Homo sapiens: one gene and its partners. The protein of the gene in region 4 purifies or fractionates together with the protein of the main gene of each other region. This does not show direct contact. Each region holds a gene or a part of one and is shown on either strand. Other genes may lie near its edges.

Evidence for each region.
Region 1: the proteins of PNPT1 (region 4) and PEX7 purify together in Homo sapiens (co-immunoprecipitation; one large-scale study listed by IntAct). This does not show direct contact.
Region 2: the proteins of PNPT1 (region 4) and CLTB fractionate together in Homo sapiens (co-fractionation; one large-scale study listed by BioGRID). This does not show direct contact.
Region 3: the proteins of PNPT1 (region 4) and TMEM67 fractionate together in Homo sapiens (co-fractionation; one large-scale study listed by BioGRID). This does not show direct contact.

The regions. Positions count from the first base shown.
Region 1 is NC_000006.12:136,866,988-136,873,162, reverse strand, and holds part of PEX7 (peroxisomal biogenesis factor 7), read right to left. Parts: intron 3,274-6,175; coding exon 3,160-3,273; intron 966-3,159; coding exon 910-965; intron 1-909. UniProt on the Homo sapiens protein: Receptor required for the peroxisomal import of proteins containing a C-terminal PTS2-type peroxisomal targeting signal. Specifically binds to cargo proteins containing a PTS2 peroxisomal targeting signal in the cytosol.
Region 2 is NC_000005.10:176,392,540-176,398,714, forward strand, and holds part of CLTB (clathrin light chain B), read right to left. Parts: intron 5,509-6,175; coding exon 5,391-5,508; intron 5,180-5,390; coding exon 5,068-5,179; intron 3,994-5,067; coding exon 3,940-3,993; intron 407-3,939; coding exon 235-406; 3' UTR 1-234. UniProt on the Homo sapiens protein: Clathrin is the major protein of the polyhedral coat of coated pits and vesicles.
Region 3 is NC_000008.11:93,756,991-93,763,165, forward strand, and holds part of TMEM67 (meckelin isoform 1 precursor), read left to right. Parts: intron 1-1,492; coding exon 1,493-1,586; intron 1,587-2,869; coding exon of another isoform or gene 2,870-3,003; intron 3,004-6,175. UniProt on the Homo sapiens protein: Required for ciliary structure and function. Part of the tectonic-like complex which is required for tissue-specific ciliogenesis and may regulate ciliary membrane composition.
Region 4 is NC_000002.12:55,645,345-55,651,519, forward strand, and holds part of PNPT1 (polyribonucleotide nucleotidyltransferase 1, mitochondrial precursor), read right to left. Parts: intron 2,110-6,175; coding exon 2,003-2,109; exon of another isoform or gene 1,929-2,002; intron 1,143-1,928; coding exon 1,071-1,142; intron 979-1,070; coding exon 915-978; intron 89-914; coding exon 5-88; intron 1-4. UniProt on the Homo sapiens protein: RNA-binding protein implicated in numerous RNA metabolic processes. Catalyzes the phosphorolysis of single-stranded polyribonucleotides processively in the 3'-to-5' direction. Mitochondrial intermembrane factor with RNA-processing exoribonulease activity.

The DNA of each region.
Region 1 (6,175 bases), on a different chromosome or scaffold from region 4:
TATATCTTTATGTACATCTTGACTTTTGAAACCATGTCAATGTTTTGCCTAGACAAAATCAACAAGGATGGGAGGAAAACCCTAAAATTGAATACAAACAGAAACAAAGGAATCAAACCATGTTTCAAGTGAATAACATAACCACACTCTAACAGAGAAGAGGAGAATTAACCTAAGTAACTTCTGAATATAGTATTCAAACTAAAGACAAAAAAAACTCTAAGCAAGTGCTGAGCTCTAATTAGTAAGATTGTTTTTTTCAAAGGTATGGCTTTGCAATTCTGAACTACTTTCTAAGCATTACAGGGTTTAACACATAAGAAAATATATTGTGAATAAAATGGAAGTCAAGAGTTACAAATTTGGAAAGGGAAAATAAATCCTCTGTGGTATGGAACTGTAACTGGAAGTATAAATAGAGACCCACACCCACACACACTCTTATCTAGATATCCATGCACATATATACACATACATGTTCATATATCTACATTCACAAAAAATCATACACTCATGTTCATTGTTTTTTCATCTAAGCAATCTTAGCCTTACGACTCATATAATTAGACCTGAAGAAATGCAATTTCCAAATTTCTATATCTAAATTTAGAATATATTGGCTATGCCATCTATAGTGTAGGAAAGTGTTACCATAGGAACATCTATTAGAAAAGATGGCTTTTAAACAGAATAGCCAGGCTAATATTTGAAGAGAAAAAATTTACTCATATATGTGACTGGATCACGAAAACAGGAAAAATATAATATTAATCCTAGTAAATATTTAAATGTACCCATCTCAGATTATTTTCATGTTAGTAAGAGTAATCATATTATCTCTTATAAAAGTTGCAAAGATGCAAATGTTACCTGGTATTTCACAATGAAATGTATTAAAAACCACTGTACCTTACAGTAAAATCATACGAGCAAGAGGCCAGCACAGAAGCATGAAATGGTGAAAACTACAAAAAAAAAAAGAAAAAAAAAACCCTTTTTGAAGTCAGCTGTGATTATAACACTGCTTTCTATGATCATTCCATAAACATTATAATAAATTTAAGTTGAGTCAGAGCTGTCACTTAAAATTATGCTTTTTCAAAGCATATATGCTATAATTTGAGGCAAAAATCTTCTGGCCTTATAAGTATCCATCTTCAGGAAAAATATTTTTACATTCTCCAAAGAAAATTATCCCTCAAGCTTTTTAGAACTTATTTAGAATAAAATATTCCCAAAATGTTGCTATTCTGGAAAAATTAAATACAATTTCATATTGGCTATCCAAAAATGATTCTTACAGGCCAGATGCAGCAGCTCACACCTGTAATCCCAGCACCTTGGGAGGCTCAGGAGGGCAGATCACCTCAGGTCAGGAGCTCGAGACCAGCCTGGCCAACATGGTGAAACCCCGCCTGTACTAAAAATACAAAAGTTAGATGGGCATGGTGGCACATATGCCTATAATCTCAGCTTCTGGGGAAGCTGAAGCAGGTGAATTGCTTTAACCCAGAAGGTGGAGGTTGCAGTGAGCCGAGATCATGCCACTGCACTCCAGCCCCGGCGACAGAGAGAGACTCTGGCTCAAAAAAAGCAAAAGCAAACAAAGTAATAAACAAAAATGATTCTTACAAATATAAGGGATTTAAGTATATAAGAGTACAAATATATAATTATATAATTTACCAATTTTACAAATATATGATTGCTATAATCACGTTATCAAAATAAACATTTAAATGTTAAATAAAAACACCCTTAAGTTATTTTTACGTTATTTGTATATTACAGCTAATGGAAAATTATATCAAGGGTAAAAAGCAAGTTTAAAGACAAGTAACGTCTTCTAGATGAGTAATAATGTACTTAATAAGTTGACCTTTGCAATTACATTTCTTCAGTGTTTGTCTTATCGCACTTTAATAGTTAAATACACATATATAACTACATTTGACCAGCACTTAGTTTGCAAAGTACTTTCACTACATTACCTTATTTCATTCTCATAATCACTCTAAAATATACATAGAGCATATTTTTCAACTGCTAAAACTTGTCCAATTAAACAAATTTATTAAAAAATAAAACAGAGCACTGTGTCTCCTATGTTGCATTGCAGCCAGAGAAACTTAAAATATTAACTTAACTAAAAATTTAGAATTTTTGGCCAGGCACAGTGACTCAGCCTGTAATCCCAGCACTGTGGAAGGCTAAGGCAGGCAGATCACTTGAGGTCAGGAGTTCAAGACCAGCCTGGCCAACACTGTGAAACCCTGTCTCCACTAAAAATACAAAAAAATTAGCCGGGCATGGTGGTGCACACCTGTAGTCCCAGCTACTCAGTAGGCTGAGGCAGGAGAACAGCTTGAACCCAGAAGGCAGAGGTTGCAGTGAGCTGAGATCGTGTCTGGGTGACAGGGCAAGACTCCATCTCAAAAAAAAAGAAAAAAAAATTTAGAATTTTTTAAATAGTAGGAATAACATAATTACCTTATTAAAATAATCAATAAGGTACTTTTTTATCCTTAACGTAAAAAAACAAAAGGATGAAATTGGGAGATGTCACTTAATAAGATGTTTTCCACAGTCATTTAGCAGAACCTGCCTAAATATAAAAGCCAGGAAACCAACCTAAGTCATCTTATAACCCAGATAAATTTACTGAGACCATCATTAAAAATTTACCTCATCCTCTGCTGTTCACAGAGTAGAAAACTTTCTATATCCCAAACATCTGTGAACAGTCATGTATGTTATCATGTTAGGAAAAAGAAAGAATTAACCATCTCTTTACATCTGTTTCAACAAAGTAGAGACTCTCGCTAATTAGAAACTTATAAAGAACATAATACTAAAAGTGAATTACTATAGTTAAAAAAATATATTAAAGGAAAAACAGATTGGAGGTGAAAGAATGAGAAAAAGATTTTTATTTAACCTTAAGTATTGAATGTCTACATTGCCCAAATTCATTCAATCATTATTCAAATATTTTTGCCTAATTTTAGCTTTCACTACTAATTAATTGGGTAACAAAAACACATATAAAAAAGAATTAGTAACTCCAATCCCTAAACCCAGAACACTTTTTAATATACACTTCATTGATTATATTTATATAATTTTATTCTACATATAAAAGAAAAGATGAAAACTTACTTTCACCCTCCTAATAGCATAGGTATGACCAAGAAGTTCAAACACTGGTTGTCGTACATTCCTTAAGTCCCAGCCTCTCAAACTACAGTCAACCGCCCCGGTCACCAGCAAATTCTAAAAACAATTCAGAGAAACATAAACTGTGACATCTTTGCAATTAAACAGTATGCAGGCTTTCCTACTAGAAACAACATCTGCTTTCTGATAACTATTTAATATGAACCAAGGAGTCATTTTTGAGAAGTTGTATAACAAGTATAGACAGGAATCAACATAGACATTAATAGCAAAAAACTAATATGACTTGTGAGAAAAAGAACTCAATATGCTTTATGTACACGATGGAACACTACAGACAGCTGGAAAAGGCATAGTTCCAAACAGCATTGTGGATTTTCTAATTCAGCTTTAGAAGCGGCAGTAAATACATAGGGGATTAAAAATTTTATCTGACAAATGAGCCCAGCTTTCTCTTCAAAAGGTTTTCCCTGGAATTCCAGCACCTTGGGAGGCAAAGGTGGGAGGATCACTTGAGGCCAGGAACTTGAGACCAGCATGGACAATAAAGCAAGACCCTGTCTACCCAAAAAATTAGCCAGGCGTGGTAACACACACCTGTAATTTTAGCTACTTGAGAGGCTGAGTGAGGCAGGAGGATTGTGTGAGCCCAAGAGTCAGAGGCTACAGTGTGGTATGATCACCCCACTGTACCTCAGCCTGGATGACACAGCGAGACCCTGTCTCTAAAAAAAAAATAAAAATTTAAAAAAGGTTTTCAAGGCTGGGTGCGGTGGTTCACTCCTATAATCCCAGCACTTTGGGAGGCCAAGGCCGGTGGATCACTTGAGCCCAGGAGTTTGAGACCAGCCTGGGCAACAGTGAGACCTCATCTCTAAAAAACAAACAAACAAAAAGGGTTTCAACATACTCTGAGGTTTTTCCAGGCATTAAAAGGCAAGAGGTCTGTTCATTTAGGCACATCTGAAAAAGCAAAGGCTATGAATTAAATTTTTCCATGTTCTCTAAATCTAAATTAATCATTGTTTCCAACTCTCTTGGACCAAAATTCTTAATACGATATCTAATCATATCCAAGAATGTAATCAAATAGTGGTGAGTCTCTTATCTATTCCGGCTTTACAAATTCTGCTATCTAGAGCCCCAAGTGAACCCAGAGGTCCTGGCTGAATAGGACAAGTGCTGGGTCCACACTCAGTCCACCCCACATAACTCAGAACAGCAATGGATTTAAGTTGGCGCAAAAGTAGTTGCAGTTTTTGCCATTGAAAGTAATGGCAAAAACTGCAACTACTCTTGCACCAACCTAACATTGTCTGACTATGTTGGGCTTTAGTTTAAGCTAATTTGAAGAAAAGTTTCAGTTATTAGAAAATAATTTTTGTAAATCACTCTCAAATGTCTATCAGCATCTTTCTTTAGAGTTCCCAAACATCTAACATACAGGCCATAATTAATTTTCCAATATGAAACATTCATTTATGAGTTTGAAACTATAGTCATCAGCATTGAAATGTTTAGATTGAGTAATATCATTGTATATATACTATATTTTAACTTATTTTACTTATTTTTATTTAAAGAACTCTGCCAATACAATGTTCTTTTAACTTTAATTAATTTAAAACTGGGAAAAAAACAAAGCATACATTTTACCTATTTGTCACGGTCAACAGACCACTTCAGGGACATAAATACAGTCATGCATCACTTAATGATGGGGATATGCTCTCAGAAATGTGGCATTAGGCAATTTCATCTTTGCGTGAACATCACAGAGTGTACTTACACAAACCTAGGTGGTACAGCCTAGTACACACCCAGGCTAGATGAAACAGCCTATTGCTCCTAGGCTACATGCCTGTCCAGCATGTTACTGTACTGAATACTGTAGGCTACTGTAACACAATTGTAAGGCTTTCTGTATCTAAACATAGAAAAGGTATAGTAAAAATATAGTATGGAAGATAAAAAATGGTAGTAGGGTCCTTACCATGAATGGAGCTTACAAAACTGGAAATTACTCTGGGTGAGTCAGTGAGTGAATGAGTAGTGAGTGAATGGAAAGGCCTAGAACATTACTGTACACTAAATTTATTTTTTATTTCCTTTCTTCAATAATAAATTAACCTTAGCTCACTGTAATTTTTTGCTTCATAAACTTTCTAATTTTTTTTAAAGTTTTTTGTTGTTGTTGTTGTTGTTGTTTTGAGATGGAGTCTTGCTCTGTTGCCAGGCTGGAGTGCAGTGGCGTGATCTTGGCTCACTGCAGCCTCTGCCTCCCAGTTCAAGCGATTCCCCTGCCTCAGCCTCCCGAGTAGCTGGGACTACAGGCGCCTGCCACCATGCCTGGCTTTTTTTACTTTTTGACTCTTCATAATAACAAAACTTAAAATATAAACACATTGTAGAGCTATACAAAAATATTTTCTTTCTTTATATCCTTAGTTTATAAGCTTTTTTCTATTTAATTTTTTTTTTTACTTTTTAAACTCTTTTTTTAAAAACTGAGACGCACACATATTAGTTTAGGACTACACTGAGTCAGGATTATCAATATCACTGTCTTCTACCTTCACATCTTGTCCTGCTGGAAGGTTTTCGGGGGCAATAGGAATTTTTCAGCTCCATTATATCTTACGGGCCCTGTCACATATGCAATCTGTCACTGGCTGAAATGTTGTTATGCAGTGCATGACTGTAGTATATTAACACATATTTAATCCATTTCTATCTCTGATTCATACGCTCATGTGGTTAACTGAAGCTTTAAAAAAGTTGCACATGGACACTTATCTTACAGAGGCATGAAAATTGGTTAGGCTTAAAAAGGAAGATAAAACAGAAAAATTTAAAAACTGATGGACTGTCAAATTAAAAATCAAATTACAATAGTTCAACAGCCTGACTAGCAAAGTGAGAAAGAAATAAAAGCAAAAGATGATACAAAATTGCAGGGTTAAGAGCAATAAAGAAAAAAATTACATAAGGCAGCTTC
Region 2 (6,175 bases), on a different chromosome or scaffold from region 4:
AGGAGGGACAGTCACAATTGAGTAGACTGAGAGGAGGCGTGAGGGGCTGGACCAGAGGGCCAGGAGGGAGCGAGGCGTGATGGGGTGAGGGCCCCCCTCCCAGCGCCTGGAGATGGGGAGGAGTGGAATAGGCTGTGGGTAGCAGCTGCTGCGAGTCTCCACCCCGACCAAAGCAGCTGCTCCTCCTGTGCCCAGGCCCAGCCCATGCTCTGTGGCCATGCACCTAGCAGGCACCTAGCGGGACAGTGGCGTCTGCTTCAGGGACATGAGCACCGAGCGCAGGCGGGACACATCTTTGCACTGCTTGCTGCTCTTGGGGTTGAAGTCACATAGCTGGGCCACCTTCTCCCACTCTGTGCCTGGGGTCTCCTCCTTGGATTCCTTCACGAAAGCCTCCTCGGATGCCCTGCGGGTGGAGATAGGACGGGCTTTTATAGCAGTCTGCTTTCCCCCAGCCTTGCCCTTGAGCAAGGCTGCTTTGCCCAGCCTACTCTGGGGCACTGTGTCCTCCCCAGCCTTGTGCCCCCCTGACTTCAGAGGAGGGCAGCCTTGGCGCAGGAGGAAGCCTAGCTTGGTCCTGCCTCAGGACCTTGGCACTTGCTATCACCTCTTCCTGGAACACGCTTCTCCCAGACCTGTTCCTGGCTTGCTGCTTCTTGTCATTCAGGTCTCAGTGCGGGCCTCACCTCCTCAGAAAGTCTTCCCAGCCTAGGCACCCTCTGTTCATTACTTCCCCATCGGGAGTTCCCAACCTGAGGTTCCTGACACCTAAAGACCCTTGGAGGTCCTAGGACGACCTAATGCAGGACCTTAGCTATTTCACCATTTCCAAAAACTTGGCAGAAGTAGGACACTGACTAACCATCTAACAGAAGCACCTAGTTCAGCATTGCCTGAATGTTCTGTGTGAGGATTCTCCAGAAAGACTGTGGTCAAATACCTATGGAAAACCCAGCTAAAGAGGATCTTTACAGCAAGACTTTCAAAGCCTTTCATGTGCTGTGTGCGTCGTGACCCTCCAAGGTGTGTATGTGATGGAATCCACCACATCCCAAGCGTCTTTCACCACAGAGCCCTTTGTAGCCCAGAACCACCACTGTCTCTGAGGAGCCACAGCCTGGGGCATGAATGCTCCACTGGAGTCTGCTTTTGGTTGGAATCAAGTTAGGATGAAAACTGGCGGTCCTTCATCAGAAGTTCTGGTTGACAGTCACAGAAGCCACTGACTAAGGGACAGTGGGGAAACAAGTAAATACAGTCTAGTGGACAAAATCTACACGTGGGACTCACTAACAGAAAGACAATAAGGGATTCTTAGGTGAGGAGAGCTGGGTCTATGTCCTGTTTGGCCAGCGAGGGTCGCTCACAAGTCCCTGGAAGCCCCCTCTCCATCTCAAGCAGGACCAGTTCTGCCGATGCCAGACATGACTGATGGCAGGAGCGCTCCATGGAAGAGCTGACCCCGGATCAGGTGACCTGGCCCCTCTCTAGGGATGCTGGCTGTATGCTCATTTCCTAGCCTGTAAAATGAGGATCATAGCTCTGCCCTACCAACTATTTCACTGGACTGAGAATTCAATGAGGTAGCAAGCAGGTCTGGAAAAAAGGAAAGTGCTGCGTGGAGCTGGGTGGCAAGTGGGGATGAGGGGAGCTATCCTCGGAGCTGTCCCTTCAGGGTCCAGAGGCTCCCCTCTGTCCTTGCAGCTCAAAGCGTCCATGGTCCAATGGCATCAGCATGACGACAGAGCCTGTCAGAAATGCAGACCCTTGGGCCTCCCCACCGTCCTGCTGAATCAGAATCAGGGTTTTCACGAGACCCCCTGGTAATTCATAGGCATGTGAAAGTTTGAGCCTGGGCGCAGTGGCTCACTCCTGTAATCCCAGCACTTTGGGAGGCAGAGGCGGGTGGATCACTTGAGGTCAGGAGTTCGAGACCTGCCTGGCCAACATGGTGAAACCCCATCTCTACTAAAAATACAAAAAATTAGCTGGGTGTGGCCAGGCGCGGTGGCTCATGCCTGTAATCCCAGCACTTTGGGAGGCCAAGGTGGGCGGATCACGAGGTCAGATGGAGAGCATCCTGGCTAACACGGTGAAACCCCGTCTCTACTAAAAAATACACAAAATTAGCCGGGCATGGTGGCGGGCACCTGTAGTCCCAGCTACTCAGGAGGCCGAGGCAGAAGAATTGCTTGAGCCCAGGAGGCGGAGGTTGCAGTGAGCTGAGATCATGCCACTGCACTCCAGCCTGGGTGACAGAGCAAGACTCCGTCTTAAAAAAAAAAAAAAGTTTGAGAAGCCCTGGTCTATACTCTCTCTTCAGGGCTCTCCTGGGTGCTCTCTGGGCCATTTCCTCAGGCTCAACAGAAGCATCGAGCCCCCTGTGGTATTCCACAGCACCCATGCCCATCTGACATCCCCATCCCTTGCTGGAAGCCTCCTGTGGCTCCCCACTGCCTTCTGGATCAAGTCTGAGCTCAGCCTTGGCACAACAGGCGCTTTGCAACCAGCCCCAAGCCAACCACCTCCCAGCCTCAGCTCCCACCCATCCCCACCATCCCCACCATCCCCACCATCCCAGCCTGTAGAGCTTCAGCCACTGCAGCCAGCTGGGCCTTTTCTCTCTGGATGCCTTGGCCCCAGCTGCTCCTCCCACCTTCTCTTCCCACCCTCCCTATCCAGCAAACTCCTTCTCACACTTTAAGGTCAGCTGAAGGTCTTGCATCTCTGAAGCCTGCCCAGGCTCCCCAGGCAGAGAGTGGCTTCCAGAGCTCACTGTGTCCTTCCACAAGGCCCTTATCATAACACACTCCAGACCATGAGCACGGTGAGGGGGGCGGCCTGTGGGTGTCTTACCAATCTGGCACAAGGCGAGTGCCAAAGAGTACTAAATGAGGGAGAGTGGAAGGAAGCAGACGAAGGCTCTGGTGTGCTCTGTGCCCTGTGAGAGGAGGCTTAGCCTCGACACATGACGGGCTGCCAGGGCACACCTAGAGTGAAGAACAGCAAGTACCTTCTCTTCAGCTCCACAATCCCCACCACCACCCTCCAGGATGTCTCTACCAACTAACTGACGTCGGCACGAGATATAACCTGTTTGCCAACCCTGGTCTTGATTACTCATCACACCAAGTAGACCCCAAACCTGAAACATGTGAGGGGGCCTGTGGTGGTCTGGGCAGGGGCTGATGGCCAAAGTCAGTGCACTGGGGCAGGAGGAAGAGATGGATGTCACAAAGGAGCAGCTCTTGTCCTTTACATGCCTCCAGCATCCCATGCTCAGTGTCTGTTTTGTTGAATAAAAGACCCCTTCAGCTGGGTGTGGTGGCTCATGCCTGTAATCCCAGCACTTTGGGAGGCCGAGGTGGGTGGATCACCTGAGGTCAGGAGTTCGAGACCAGCCTGGCCGACATGGTGAAACCCCGTCTCTACTAAAAATACAAAAGTTAGCCGGGCACGGTTGCATGTGCCTATAATCTCAGCTACTCGGGAGGCTGAGGCAGGAGAATCGCTTGAACCCAGGAGGTGGAGGTCGCAGTGAGCCGAGATCGCAGCACTGCACTCCATCCTGAGCAGCAAGAGCGAAACTCCATCTCAAAAAACAAAAAACCCTTCACCCCACACACCCACCAAGAGACATCACAGAGGGAGGGAGTTGGGGTGCTCTGCCATTTGCCCCTCCCACATGGGAATAAGTGGCAAGCACATTCCTTTCTCTGCCTTTATCCTGCAAGGCTCTGATTTAGCCAAGCAGCCTCCACTTCACTGGAGGGAGGGAGGTGGTTGCTGCCTGCACCCACCAGGGCATTTGCCTCCTGTTCTGACCATTGCTCCGAGCCCAGCCACACTCATTTATATCCCACAAGCAGGAAACTCAAGAAACTGTGGTGGCCATTCCCTCTCTAGCTCCCCCAACAGAGAAGCAAAACAGACACGTACACGTAGCCGATGATATCAGCATCTGGCTGCTGGTAGAATGCTTTGTCAGCGATCCTTGAGGGAAAGGTTGAGGGAAGGGGTTAGGTGGGGGAAGGCAGATGGCAAGACAGACAGGCAGGCAGAAGGTTAGAGAGAGAGAGAGAGACAGCATTAGTACCTCCAGTGGGAGAAATGTTAGGAAGCATAGTTCTGGAAGGCTCAGCAACGACCCACAGCCCCAAACAGGAGAATGGGGACCTTCACCCTGGCCCCAGCACCTTCTCTAAAATTCATCCCTGATCATGTTACTCCTGTTCAAACACCTTCAGTGGCTCCCCACTGCCCATGTCACTGCCCAACTCATCAGCCAAGGCCCTTACAGTGTGAGTCCACAGGTTCCTGCCTTCTCTCCCACCGCTCCCTGGCCCCCTGTTGCCTAATACATCACATTTTTTTCTTCGTACCCAGGTCTAGAATGCCCCCCTACCTCCTGCCCTTTTTTCCCTTTTTTCCTCCTAGTCATCTTCCAAAGCCCAAGTCCCAAGACACAGAGGTCTCTCCCTGACCTGTTTCCTTGCTTCCATGGCCTTCGTGCAGAGGGCCCTACTGTATTTGAGCTTAGTTGAACATGTGTGTTTTTCTCCTCTGCGCCCTTTGAGGACATAAGGCTGGGTCCTCCTTATCTCCATCTCCTCCGTGCCTACCCCAGAGCCTGGCATGCAGCAGTTCCCTAGACAGAAGGGTAGCTTCCCAGAACAGGCCTTTCCCTTCCTGGAAGACCTTGTACCGTGAAGGACAGAGCCTCAAAGGCAGGGAGCACTGGGCAGTGTTCAGTCATGTCCCCACAGCCCCTCTCATGTCCCCATAGCCCCTCTCATGTCCCCACAGCCCCTCTCATGTCCCCACAGCTCCCTCTCATGTCCCCACAGCTCCCTCTCATGTCCCCACAGCCCCTCTCATGTCCCCACAGCTCCCTCATGTCCCCACAGCCCGTCTCATGTCCCCACGGCCCCCTCATGTCCCCACAGCTCCCTCATGTCCCCACCCCTTCATGTCCCCATGGCCCCCTCATGTCCCCACGGCCCCCTCATGTCCCCACAGCCCCCCTCATGTCCCCATGGCCCCCTCATGTCCCTACAGCCCTCTCACCGGTTGTTGATCTTGTTCTTCTCTACTTGTTCACTCTGGCGCTGGTTCCACTCCTCCAGGTCCTTCTTGGCCTTCTCCCGCCATTCCTGTTCCGTGACCTTAGATGCAGCATCTAGGACCCCACAAGAGAATGAGTGGCTGCTTTCCAGCTGGGATGCACAGGCCCGGCCGCGCTCCTCCCCTGGCCCCTGCCAGGCAGCCACAGGGCCGCACCGGCCCAGTCCCACATTAAGGCATGCAGCATCCCATGCACTCCGAGGACTCCCCACACTCCACCCCACACACAGCCCACCCAGCCAACCCCGCCTCAGCCCCGCCCTCACCCAGCTCTTGCAGCCGTTTCCTCTGCTCCTCTCGCCACTTGCGGATGCTCTCAGGCTCCTGGGTCAGCCTGTCAGCCTGGGCAATGGCTGCGTAGCCATCAGCAGGACCGTTGGCCTCCTAGAACACAAACACGCAGCAGTCTATCCAGCCAGCACACCTGCCCCGCTGTCTCTGCTGCCCCTGCTGGGGACCCACTCATGTCTGGATAACTCAGCCTCAAACAACCTCATACCCACTGTCTCTGGTGACTACACCTATCTTTGCACTTGCTGTTCCCTCTGCCAGCAACACTCCGCCACCTGTGTGACTGCGGGCAAGTTACTCACCCTCTCTGTGCCTGATCATTGCCTCTGGCCCAGTTATAGGTTTTGATACCCCCAAAGCAGAAGACTCAAGAAAGCGTGTGCCAGCCACTTTCTTTGTCATAAAATGGGCTAAATAACAGTATGCACTCTGATGGGAGGACATAAGGATGAAATGAGTTAAAAATTATAAAGAATGTCGGGCGCAGTGGCTCACACCTGTAATCCCAACACTTTGGGAGGCCGAGGCGGCAAATCACCTGAGGTTGGGAGTTCAAGACCAGCCTGACCAACATGGAGAAATCCCGACTCTACTAAAAATACAAAAAATTAGCCAGGCGTGGTGGTGCATGCCTGTAATCCCAGCTACTCCGGAGGCTGAGGCAGGAGAATCACTTGAACCCGGGAGGCAGAGGTTGCAGTGAGCCGAGATCACACCATTGCACTCCAGCCTGGGCAACAAGAGCAAAACCCCGTCTCAA
Region 3 (6,175 bases), on a different chromosome or scaffold from region 4:
TTGAACTCAGGAGGCAGAGGTTGCAGTAAGCCAAGATTGCACCATTGCACTCCAGCCTGGGTGACAGAGCGAGACTCTGTCTCAAAAAAATAAATAAAATATAAATAAATAAATAAATAAATAAATAAATAAATAAATAAATTGTCCTGTATAAATGTATTGCCAAATATAGGAGTATTTCTTGATAAATTCAGTCTTTTCAACCAAAATTTAAAATAATTTGTGGCATTATTTTTGTTCTTTATAAACTTTGGTTACATCTGTGTTTGTAATTATTGTGTTTTTTGCCCCAGGCTTTTCCTAAACCATATGATATAATAAGCCCAATTTTGAATGCTGTCATACTTTATCAAAAACCTTTACTAGGCCGGGCGCGGTGGCTCACGCCTGTAATCCCAGCACTTTGGGAGGCTGAGGCAGGTGGATCACGAGGTCAAGAGATCAAGACCATCCTGGCAAATGTGGTGAAACCCCATCTCTACTAAAAATACAAAAATTAGCTGGACGTGGTGGCACGTGCCTGTAGTCCCAGCTACTCGGGAGGCTGAGGCAGGAGAATTGTTTGAACCTGGGAGGCAGAGCTTGCAGTGAGCCGAGATTGTGCCACTGCACTCCAGCCTGGCAACAGAGCAAAGACTCTGTCTCAAAAAAAAAAAAACCTTTACTAGTACAAGCCATAAATGGATAGAAGAAAATATTCTCATAAATCAATTTTAACAACTATGTGTATAATTTATATATTTCATAAAATTTACCCATTTTGAATCATAAATGAATTTTTTTTTTTTTTGAAAGAGAGTATTACTGTTGCTCAGGCTGGAGTGCAGTGGCACGATCTCAGCTCACTGCAACCTCCACCTTTCTGGTTCAAGCCATTCTGGTGCCTCAGCCTCCCAAGTAGGATTATAGGCATACACCACCACGCCCAGCTAATTTTTGTATTTTTAGTAGAGACGAGGTTTCACCACATTGGCCAGGCTGGCCTCAAGCTTTGGCCTCAAGTGATCCACCCACCTTGGCCTCCCAAAGTGCTGGAATTACAGACGTGAGCCACTGTGCCTGGACTAAATTTTTTAGGTATTTGAATTTTTAAAAATTAGAATAGAGTTTTAGAACAGGTAAGATTAACCTATTAACTGACCGTTGATTCAATCTTTTTGTGTTGTGTTGTGTTTTATATTTGTAAATGGAAAAACGAAATGACAAATAATTATGAAAGAGGCATCCATTTGAATTAAAGATCCTGAAGAAGAGAGAACTATTATCCGGAGTTAATCCTTTAATAGTTTTCAGGACATAGTGATAATATAGAGCTTCATTTTGGAATATAAGCATGAATTATCTCTCCAGGGAATTTTTATGTGGCTCATATATGTATGATTTATTTGAATATTCACTGTAGTTACATACTCTTATGGCATTTTGAACTTACATGATTAGAAGAAGAAAGTTAATTAAAAAAGAGAAAAGCATTTTTTTTCTTTTAATTTAGAAAGGTGTTACAGAAGATGGCTGGAACTGCATTTCTTGCCCTAGTGACTTAACTGCCGAAGGAAAATGTCACTGTCCCATTGGCCATATTTTAGGTAAGAATTAGATTCCTTATAAAGAAGTAGTGATAAATCTTCATTCTTGTTTTTGTTTTTATTTGAAAAGGGCACTAATTTAAATAGTTAAGTGATTACTTAATATTTTTGCAGTGGCTCAAGCAATTCTCCTGCCTCAGCTTCCTGAGTAGCTGGGACTGCACACATAACACCACTGCAGCTGGCTAATTTTTAAATTTTTTGTAGAGACTGGGTCTCGTTATGTTGCTCAGCCTGGTCTTGAACTCCTGGCCTCGAGAGATCTTCCTGCCTCAGCCTCCTAAAGTGCTGGGATTATAGGCATCAGTCACTGTGTCCAGCCCTTAATAGTGTTTATAAAAATTATTTTTGTACAAATTAATGATACTTAAAACATCAGCAGGCATTGAGAAGAAAATACAAAGTTTTGTCTGAGTTTTTTAAAACTCTTAATATTGTAGGATTAGATGGTTATTTCCTTAACATAACATGACAAAATATGTCTCAACTCAAAAGCCAACTTGATACTTAATAGGGAAAAAGCGTAAGCATTCCTGTTAATGTCAGGACCTGGAAAAGGATGCAAACTATGCACTTAAGTAAGAGAAAAAAAATATTTATCATTGGAAAAGAAAAGGTAGGCCGTTGTTAATCCTAGCACTTTGGAAGGCTAAGGCAGGTGTATTGCTTGAGCTCAAGAGTTTGAGACCAGTCTGGGCAACATGGTGAAACCGCATCTCTACAAATAAAAAAAAAAATTATTTGGTTACGGTGGCATGCACCTGTAGTCCCAGCTACTCGAGAGGCAAAGGTGGGAAGATCGCTTGAGCCTGGAAGGTCAAGGCTACAGTGAGCTGAGATGGCGCCACTGCACTCCAGCCTGAGCGACAGGGTAAGACCCTGTCTCATGAAAAAAAAAAAAAAAAAAAGTAAAATATCATTGTTTACAGATGATTTGATTGTATGTTTAAAACACCCAACAGAATGACTAAAAATTATTATAAACAGTGATGGAAGAAAATACCTCATATACAGTAGCAACAAAAAAGAAAAAATAAGTAGGCATATCCTTTTTTTTAATTTTAATTTTTATTTTTGTTTTTTTTTTTTTGAGACAGAGTTTTCACTGTTGTTGCCCAGGCTAGAGTGCAATGGTGTGATCTTGGCTCACTGCAACCTCCCTCTCAGGTTCAAGCGATTCTCCTGCCTCAGCCTCCCGAGTAGTTGGGATTATAGGCATGTGCCACCACACCTGGCTAATTTTATATTTTTAGTGGCTAACAGGGTTTCTCCATGTTGGTCAGGCTGGTCTTGAACTTCCGACCTCAGGTGATCTGCCTGCCTCAGCCTCCCAAAGTGCTGGGATACAGGCTTGAGCCACCGCACCTGACCTTGGCATGTACTTTAGAAGGAATGTACAACATAATTGAAGAAATTTGTGAGTATTACTGAGGGATATGAAGGCAGGCTTTTAAGTGAAAATGCATTCTTTATTTTTGGATGGGAAGATTAAATATTAGAAAGATGCAACTCTTCTACCAGTCTGTATATTTTAAAGGACCCTAATAAATTCTATCAGGATATTATTTGTTTGTTTTGGGGTAATATACAAATAGAGTCTGAAGTTTAACAGGAAAGTTATATGAAAAGCTAAGAAAATTCTGGGAAGGGAAAGAAGGAACTACCCCATCAGATAATATGCATGTTATATAGCTACTATAATCACATATATGACAGGCTTATGGATACACAGACTGATTGATGGAACTTAAAACAGGCAATCAGAATAGATTCAATTCATATAGGAATTTGGTATGTGAAAAAAGTGGCATTTCATATAAGTGGGGATAAAACTGATTAATGATGCTGGGAAAACTGAGAAAACACCCAGGTTGGGTTTCTACCTTATTTCTGAGAAAATTAAACTCCAAATGAGTCAAATACTAAATATGAATATATGAAAGTTCTTAAAGAAAATGCAGGAAAAATTTGTATAGTTTTGGTTTAACAGGCCTAAGTATGACCAAAAATACTCAGTCACTTTGGAGGCCTAGGTGGGACGATTACTTGAGCCATGGAGTTCCTGACCAGCCTGGGCAATATAGAGAGACTCTGTGTCTACAAAAAAAAAAGAAAAAAAGAAAAACCACAGAAGAAAAAATTGGTAAATTTATAAAATGCCATAAAAATTATAATACCAAAAACCAAACTACAAACTAAAGAAAAATATTAATGCATACAATAGACAGAGGTCGAAGTTCTTCAATAAATGTAAAGCTCCTACAGATAAATAAAAGTAAGATGAATAACCCAATTTTTAAAATAGCCAAGAGTCATAAATAAAGTTCACATAGAAAAAAATATTTTAACGTGAGAAAAAAATGTTCAACTTTACTCAGAGTAAGAAAATGTACGTTAAAGCTAAAATGAGATTTTATTTTTAACCTACCAGATTTTATTATAAAATTTTTTCGACCGGGCACAGTGGCTCACGCTTGTAATCCAGCACTTTGGGAGGCCGAGGCAGGTGGATCACCTGAGTTCAGGAGTTCAAGACCAGCCTGACGAATGTAGTCGCTATTAAAAACTCAAAATTAGCCTGGCATGGTGGCACATGCCTGTAATCCCAGTTTCTTGGAGGCTGAGGCAGGAGAATTGCTTGAACCCAAGGAGGTGGAGGTTACAGTGAGCCAAGATCACGCCATTGCACTCCAGCCTGGGCAACAAGAGTGAAACTCCATCTCAAAATAAAAAAGAAACTTTTTCAACTTTGACAATGTATTTATAAGGATACAGGGAAATAGTTATTCGTGTATTAATGGGAAAAATTTTAAGTTGGTGCAACCTCTGTGGAAAGCAAATTTATGGTGTTTATCAAAATTAAAAATACAGATTATCTTTGCCTGGAAAGCTCTCATCTAGAAATTTCTCATTTGGATACACTTAACTGTATGCCTGAAGAAGTGTTGAATGTTTTTTTCTTGCAACATTATTCCTAAGACAAAAGATTATAAACAAAATAAGATTCTATCAAGATGAGATCAATCAATTAAATTATGATATAGTCATACAATGGTATAGAATGCAATTGTGGAAAAATAAAGAGGCAGTTCTACACATAGTGCTATGGAAAGAAATCTAAGATATATTGAGTAAAAAAGCAAGATTTGGAATAATTTATTCATTCATCTACAAATGTTTATTGAGTACCTGCTATTTATCAGCACTATTTTATGTACTTGGTATTCCACTATTTAGCTTTTTAAAGACCATTATATATGCATATGTGCTTGTATATGCACAGGTTATTTCTGAAAAGACTCATAAGAAACTGTTAACAATGCTGCCTCCTGAGTGAAGAACTGAGTGCCTGGGAATAGTGGGAAAGAGACTTAATTTTCATTTTAAATCTTTTTTTGCTTGGTGCAGTGTTTCACGCCTGTAATCGCAGCACTTTGGGAAGCCGAGGTGGGTGGATCACCTGAGGTTAGAAGTTCAAAACCACCCTGGCCAACATGGTGAAACCCTGTCTCTACTAAAAATAGAAAAATTAGCTGGGCATGGTGGCAGGTGCCTGTAGTCCCAGCTACTTGGGACACTGAGGCAGGAGAATCACTTGAATCTGGGAAGTGGAGGTTACAGTGAGTGAGATCACGCCACTGTGCTCCAGCCTGGATGACAAGAGCGAAACTCTCTCAAAAAATAAAATAAAATAAATCCTTTTGTGCCTTTTATTTTTATATTTCATATATTACCCAAAGATTAATTTTTTAATTATCTTTACCTTTTTTTTTTTTTACTTTTTAACAATTTTTTTTTTTGTGGTGATGGGGGTCTTACTATATATCTCAAGCTGGTCTTGAACTCCTGACCTCAAGCAGTCCTCCTGCCTTGACCTCTCAATGTGTTGGGATTACAGGTGTGAGCCACCATGCCTGGTCTTATTTTTTCAGAGACGTGGTCTTGTTATGTTACCCAGGCTGGATTCAAACTCCTGGGCTTAAGCAATCTACTGCACCCAGCTTCTTAGTAGTTTCATTGGCACTGTTGCCTCCATTGAAAATATTAACTTGATTCTCACGGTATTTGGGGGGTGTATTCTTAGGGATGGGACTAATGAAAGTTTTATGAGTTGGATGGCAATATGAAATTTATTACACTTCATGATGTACTAATTTTGGTGTGTGTGTCTCTGTGTGTGCACATTCAGAATTTTTTTTCCCTGTTTTATTATAAGGATCTACACTATATAGCCACAGGAAACATAAGTGGTATGTTTGCATAAATGTTTCATACACAAATATTGTTCTAGCATACTTTTTTCAGTTAACGGTATGCTCTGATGCTCTGTTAGATTTACCTGATTCTTTTTGTTTGTTTGTTTTTTGAAACAGGGTCTCACTCTTGCCCAGGCTGGAGTGTAGTGGTGTGATCTCAGCTCACTGCAACCTCCACCTACCAGGTTCAAGTGATTCTCATGCCTCAGACACTTGAGTAGCTGGGATTACAGGCACGTGCCACCACACCCAGCTAATTTTGTATTTTTTTTTTTTTAGTAGAGACAAGGTTTTGCCATATTGGCCAGGCTGGTCTTGAACTCCTGGCCTCAT
Region 4 (6,175 bases):
TTACCTACAACAGGTCCATTTTCTTTTCTAGATGCTCGAGGTTTTGAAATAGTTTTGTTCATGATCTGTAATATCTCCTTTTTTGCCACTAGAAGAGAAAAACACAAAAATTATAACTACATAAAACAAATATGATCTGAAATACTGTACTCTTAGTTTTCACGGTATACAATCTAAACCCTGTAGCTTAATAATTGAAGCTTTCCACATCCCTATTACCTTGAAAATTCACTCATATTCTCTTCTCCAAAAATCCCATCTTAAATAGAGTTGTTTAATTTGTAAAAATTGAAATTTCACTGGTAACCCACTTTGGCGTGTATTCATGTGTCCCAAAAACTTAGTTGTGCTTCTTCTTTTTTTAAAATAGATATGGGATCTCACTACGTTGCCCAGGCTGGTCTTGAACTCCTGGGGCTCAAGCAATCTTCCTGCCTTGGCCTCCCAAAGTGCTAGGATGAGCCACCATGCCATGCCTGGCTACTTAGTACTTCTTTTTTTTTGAGACATTTTCCCTCTGTCACCCAGGCTGGCGCGCAATGGCATGATCTCGGCTCACTGTAACCTCTGCCTCCTGGGCTCAAGCGATTCTCTTGTCTCAGCCTCCTGAGTAGCTGGGATTACAGGTATGCACCACCATGCCCGGCTAATTTTTGTACTTTTAGTAGAGACAGGGTTTCACCATGTTGGCCAGGCTGGTCTCGAACTCCTGACCTGAAGTGATCTGCCTGCCTCGGCCTCTCAAAGTGCTGGGATTACAGACATGAGCCACCACACCTGGCCAGTACTTCTTGATCTAAGTTATATGAAATTCCACTTTTTAAAGCAATATTTTATAATAAGCCTAATGAGAACTATAGTTCCCATTAGCAAAGTGGAAAAGAATGAAGGGAGAATCAAGCACACTAGCTCACCTGAAGCTTGTTGAATAGCCTCCATCACAATTTTTATTGGTATTCCAGGTAATTTAATATCAGCCTAATATGGAAAAGTCAAACAATTATATAAATATTGACTCATGGCATTATTTAAATGTTACAAAAATGAAACAAAATGGGTTTTAAAAATACCTGTAATGCAGTTATTCCTTTATTAGTGCCAGCTATTTTGAAGTCCATGTCACCATTGTAATCTTCAATTCCCTTCAGGAATTTAAAAAGTTATGACATAGTTTTAAACAAAAACAAAAGTCAACATATTCACTGTAGAAACATTTCAAAAAACAGCTTTAGAAGTAAACCATATCCTAAGTCCAAACACAAAGCAATGTTTTCTACATTAACTACCACTTCCAATTTGTGACTTTTTAAGCTACAATTATTTTCACCAGAAACATCATTTTATTTTTAGATCATTCCTTTCCCTCATAAATGCCTGAGAATGAATTTATGCTCATCCTAAAGTGAGTCATTATGAATACTTACACTGTGTAAGTATTACTGCAATACTTAAGGGTAAGTATTACTATTTTTTTAAAGTAATCATTTTATTTTATTTTATTTTACTTATTTTGAGACACAGTCTTGCTCTGTTGCCCAGGATGGAGTGCAGTGGCACGATCTTGGCTCACTGCAACCTCTGCCTCCCGGGTTCAAGCAATTCTGCCTCAGCCTGCCAAGTAGATGGGATTACAGGTGTGTGCCACCATGCCCAGGCTAATTTTTGTATTTTTAGTAGAGATGGAGTTTTGCCACATTAGCCAGACTGGTCTGGAACTCCTGACTTCCCAAAGTGCTGGGATTACAGGCATGAGTCACTGTGCCTGGCCTATTACTATTAATATAATATCTATTTTAAATTCATATCCTATAAGATACAAGGTGAACATGCAGAGGAGGAAGGGAAGAACAAGTACCTGTTCTTCAAATACTAGCATTCTTCTAAGCATACGCTAGGTGCAAAGTACATATAGTCTTCACCATTATTTGTTTTTATCTTTTAATTTTTATTTATTTATTTTTAGTCTTCATTATTAAATATTTGAAACCGAGAATATACTTGCCAAAATATCTGTCAGCAAACGATAATCTTCTATTTCACCCTTCTCAGGATCGGTTTTGGTGACCAATCCTATTGCTACGCCTGCAACAGCAGATGAAATTGGAACCCCTATAATTGGGAAAAAGAACAACTGTGGGTAATGTGTACATGAGCCTAAAACAAATATTTATCTATCAATTTTTTTTTTTTTTTGAGAGGGAGTCTCGGTCTGTTGCCCAGACTGGAGTGCAGTGGCATGATCTTGGCTCACTGTAGCCTCTGCTTCCTGGGTTCAAGCAATCCTCCCACCTCAGCCTCCCCTATAGCTGGGATTATAGGCACCCGCCAACACGCCTAGCTAATTTGCTTGTATTTTTAGTGGAGATGGGGTTTCAACCATGTTGGCCCTGTTGGTCTTGAACTCCTGACCTCAGGTGATCTGCCAGCCTCAGCCTCCCAAAGCGCTGGGATTACAAGCGTGAGCCACCGCGCCCAGCAGACATTTACTTTTAATGTAAGTGGATATTGTTGCCTAAATTGACAATCACCGAAGCTGAGTTGGAAGTCTTAAGAGGTCATCTGACTACTTCGTTTGTTTTTGAACATATAATAAAGTTCCCTAAAACAATGTAAACAAGTACTATATCCAGCAAAAACTTCTCTAACAATAGCAAACTTTATAACTTTTAAATTATCCGTTGGTTTGCTTTTTTGCTTCAGGTGTCTTATTTTCTTTTTGTTGGAAAGTAAGCATCTATTTGGTAAATTCTTCCAGCCTGAACTCCTCAGTTTACCTCCCCATGGCAGCTAACATTAGTGTATCCTCCTAGAAAATTTCTGTGCACAAGTATAAATGTAAATATAATCTTTTGTTTTCTTTACTCGTGGCGGCAGACTGTATGCATTTACTGTTCTGCACCTTGCCTTTTTCACTTAATAACATGTCTTGGATATTGACACATACCACCACACAAAGCTCTACTTTATTCCTTTGAATAGTTTTAGTACTCCCTGTATGTTTTACAAGTCACACACAGAAGTGCGATTGCTGAGTCAAAAGGTATGTGCATTTACGTTTGTTAGACTGTCAAACTGCCTTCTAAAGACATAGCATTTTAAACTTTTACCAGTGGTGTAAGAAGGTATATGCTACTCTATATTCTTATTAATTCTTGTCAAATCTTTTGATTTTTCTCAATTTAAAGTGTAAAAAATGGTTATTTTAAATCTGACTTGTTTTTTATGACTGAGGTTGAAAACTATTTCATGTTCATAAACCTATTTATATGTCTTATTTTGAGAACTCCCTGTTCATGGCCTTCAACACTTTTCTACTTGGTTGGCAGTCTTTTTATTACTGATTTTCTTTCAATATGGACAGAGCTTTATTAAAATGTAAAGATAAAATATTATGTTTAATAACATATAAATAAAATATTTTATTTCCTAGTTCGTTGACTTTGCTTATGGTCATTAGTTTTCTGTGTAGGATTTTTAGTTTACGTAATCATGGTTTCTGGGTTTTGCTTAGCAGAGCTTTTCTTCTCCAAGATTTTGATAAAACCTACCATCTTTCATTTGTTTAAAAATGTTTAAGTTTTGATCACTTGGAATTTACTTTGGTATAAAGGAGTGTGGATCTCATTTCATTTTCTCTAAGCAACCTCATCTATACTTACGATTTTAACCACCATCTATAATGTTGATGACTTAAAAATCTATCCCTCCTGTCCAGCTATCTGTGCCAAACCCTGGACCTGTATTAGTAAACTCCCTGTCAGACATCTCCAGCTAAATGTCCCCAAAGCACCTTAAATATATATTCAAAATTGAGCCAGGCCCAGTGGCTCATGCTTGTAATCCCAACGCTTTGGCAGGCCAAGATGGGAGGATCACTTGAACTCAGGAATTTGAGACCAGCCTGGGCAATATATTGAGACCTCATCTCTATAAATAATAATAATGATGATGATGAAAGAAATACATATATGTTCAAAATTGAATCACTGTCAAAAAATCCTTTTCCTCCTGCATTCTTTGGTTGAAAGCAACTAAGACACTCATGCCAGAATCAACATTTCTTTCCTCATTTCCTATATCCCATCAAGTCACAAAGATCTGTTTATTTTTTTAGAAAGCTGTCCTTTACCCTAAATATTAAAATACCTATTGTAACTTTTTAGTCTGAGTCCATATCATTTCTTGCCCTGGCAACAATCTCCCTGTCTGGCTTCCCAGATTTTACTTTCTCTCTTTGCTTCTTAGTCTCTCCCATCTCATTCCGCAGGGCTATTCATCACTTAAGCTGGGAAAAACTGTTTGGAAAAAACAAAAGCAGATTCAAATCATGCCACTGTTTTCCATAAAATCCTTCAAGTTCCCCATTGCCTACTTTCAGGAAATTTTTGTACATATTCTGTGGTCAAATAAATTTGGAAAAATATTACATGTCCTATTCCTAGAGAGTCAGTATTCGGATTAGCTTATTAAAGTCTATTTAATCCATATTAAATAAACCTGCTTAACCCTGCTGAAACTTAACTTTAGAACAGAATAAACTTTTTCATGGTATACAATAATCAATGTCCTGTGGAACACTATTCCATGGAATACTGAATTGGAAAAATGCTGGCTTTAAGTCCAAACTCCTTAGCGTAACAATAACCTTCAGATTGTACAATGTGTGGCTTTCTTGAGGCACTGCCTCTCGAGTCCCTACCTCAAACTCCACTTCAAATAGGAGATTTTATGTTGGGGAAAGAAGGATTGGTAAAGAATTCTTACTTAAAAAAAATCCTGCCCTCTCTCCCTCTCTCCACCTCTACCTCTACCTCTACCTCTACCTCTACCCACGGTCTCCCTCTCCCTCTCTCCATGGTTTCCCTCTGATGCCGAGCTGAAGCTGGACGGTACTGCTGCCTGATTCTCCTGCCTCAGCCTGCCGACTGCCTGCGATTGCAGGCGCGCGCCGCCACGCCTGACTGGTTTTCGTATTTTTTTGGTGGAGACGGGGTTTCGCTGTGTTGGCTGGGCTGGTCTCCAGCTCCTAACTGCGAGTGATCCGCTAGCCTCGGCATCCTGAGGTGCCGGGATTGCAGACGGAGTCTCGTTCACTCCATGCTCAATGGTGCCCAGGCTGGAGTGCAGTGGCGTGATCTCAGCTCGCTACAACCTTCACCTCCCAGCAGCCTGCCTTGGCCTCCCAAAGTGCCGAGATTGCAGCCTCTGCCCGGCCGCCACCCCGTCTAGGAAGTGAGGAGCGCCTCTTCCCGGCCGCCATCCCATCTGGGAAGTGAGGAGCGTCTCTGCCCGGCCGCCCATCGTCTGAGATGTGGGGAGCACCTCTGCCCTGCCGCCCCGTCCGGGATGTGAGGAGCGTCTCTGCCCGGCCGCCCCGTCTGAGAAGTGAGGAGACCCTCCGCCCGGCAACCGCCCAGTCTGAGAAGTGAGGAGCCCCTCCGCCCGGCAGCCGCGCCGTCTGAGAAGTGAGAAGCCCCTCCGCCCAGCAGCCACCCCGTCTGGGAAGTGAGGAGCGTCTCTGCCCGGCAGCCACCTCGTCCGGCAGGGAGGTGGGGGGGTCAGCCCCCCGCCCGGCCAGCCGCCCCGTCCGGGAGGGAGGTGGGGGGATCAGCCCCCCGCCCGGCCAGCCGCCCCGTCCGGGAGGTGAGGGGCGCCTCTGCCCGGCCGCCCCTACTGGGAAGTGAGGAGCCCCTCTGCCTGGCCGGCCGCCCCGTCCAGGAGGGAGGTGGGGGGGTCAGCCCCCCCGCCCAGCCAGCCGCCCCGTCCGGGAGGTGAGGGGCGCCTCTGCCCGGCCGCCCCTACTGGGAAGTGAGGAGCCCCTCTGCCCGGCCAGCCGCCCCGTCTGGGAGGTGAGGGGCGCCTCTGCCCGGCCGCCCCTACTGGGAAGTGAGGAGCCCCTCTGCCCGGCCACCACCCCGTCTGGGAGGTGTGCCCAACAGCTCATTGAGAACGGGCCATGATGACAATGGCGGTTTTGTGGAATAGAAAGGGGGGAAAGGTGGGGAAAAGATTGAGAAATCGGATGGTTGCCGTGTCTGTGTAGAAAGAGGTAGACGTGGGAGACTTTTCATTTTGTTCTGTACTAAGAAAAATTCTTCTGCCTTGGGATCCTGTTGATCTGTGACCTTACCCCCAACCCTGTGCTCTCTGAAACATGTGCTGTGTCCACTCAGGG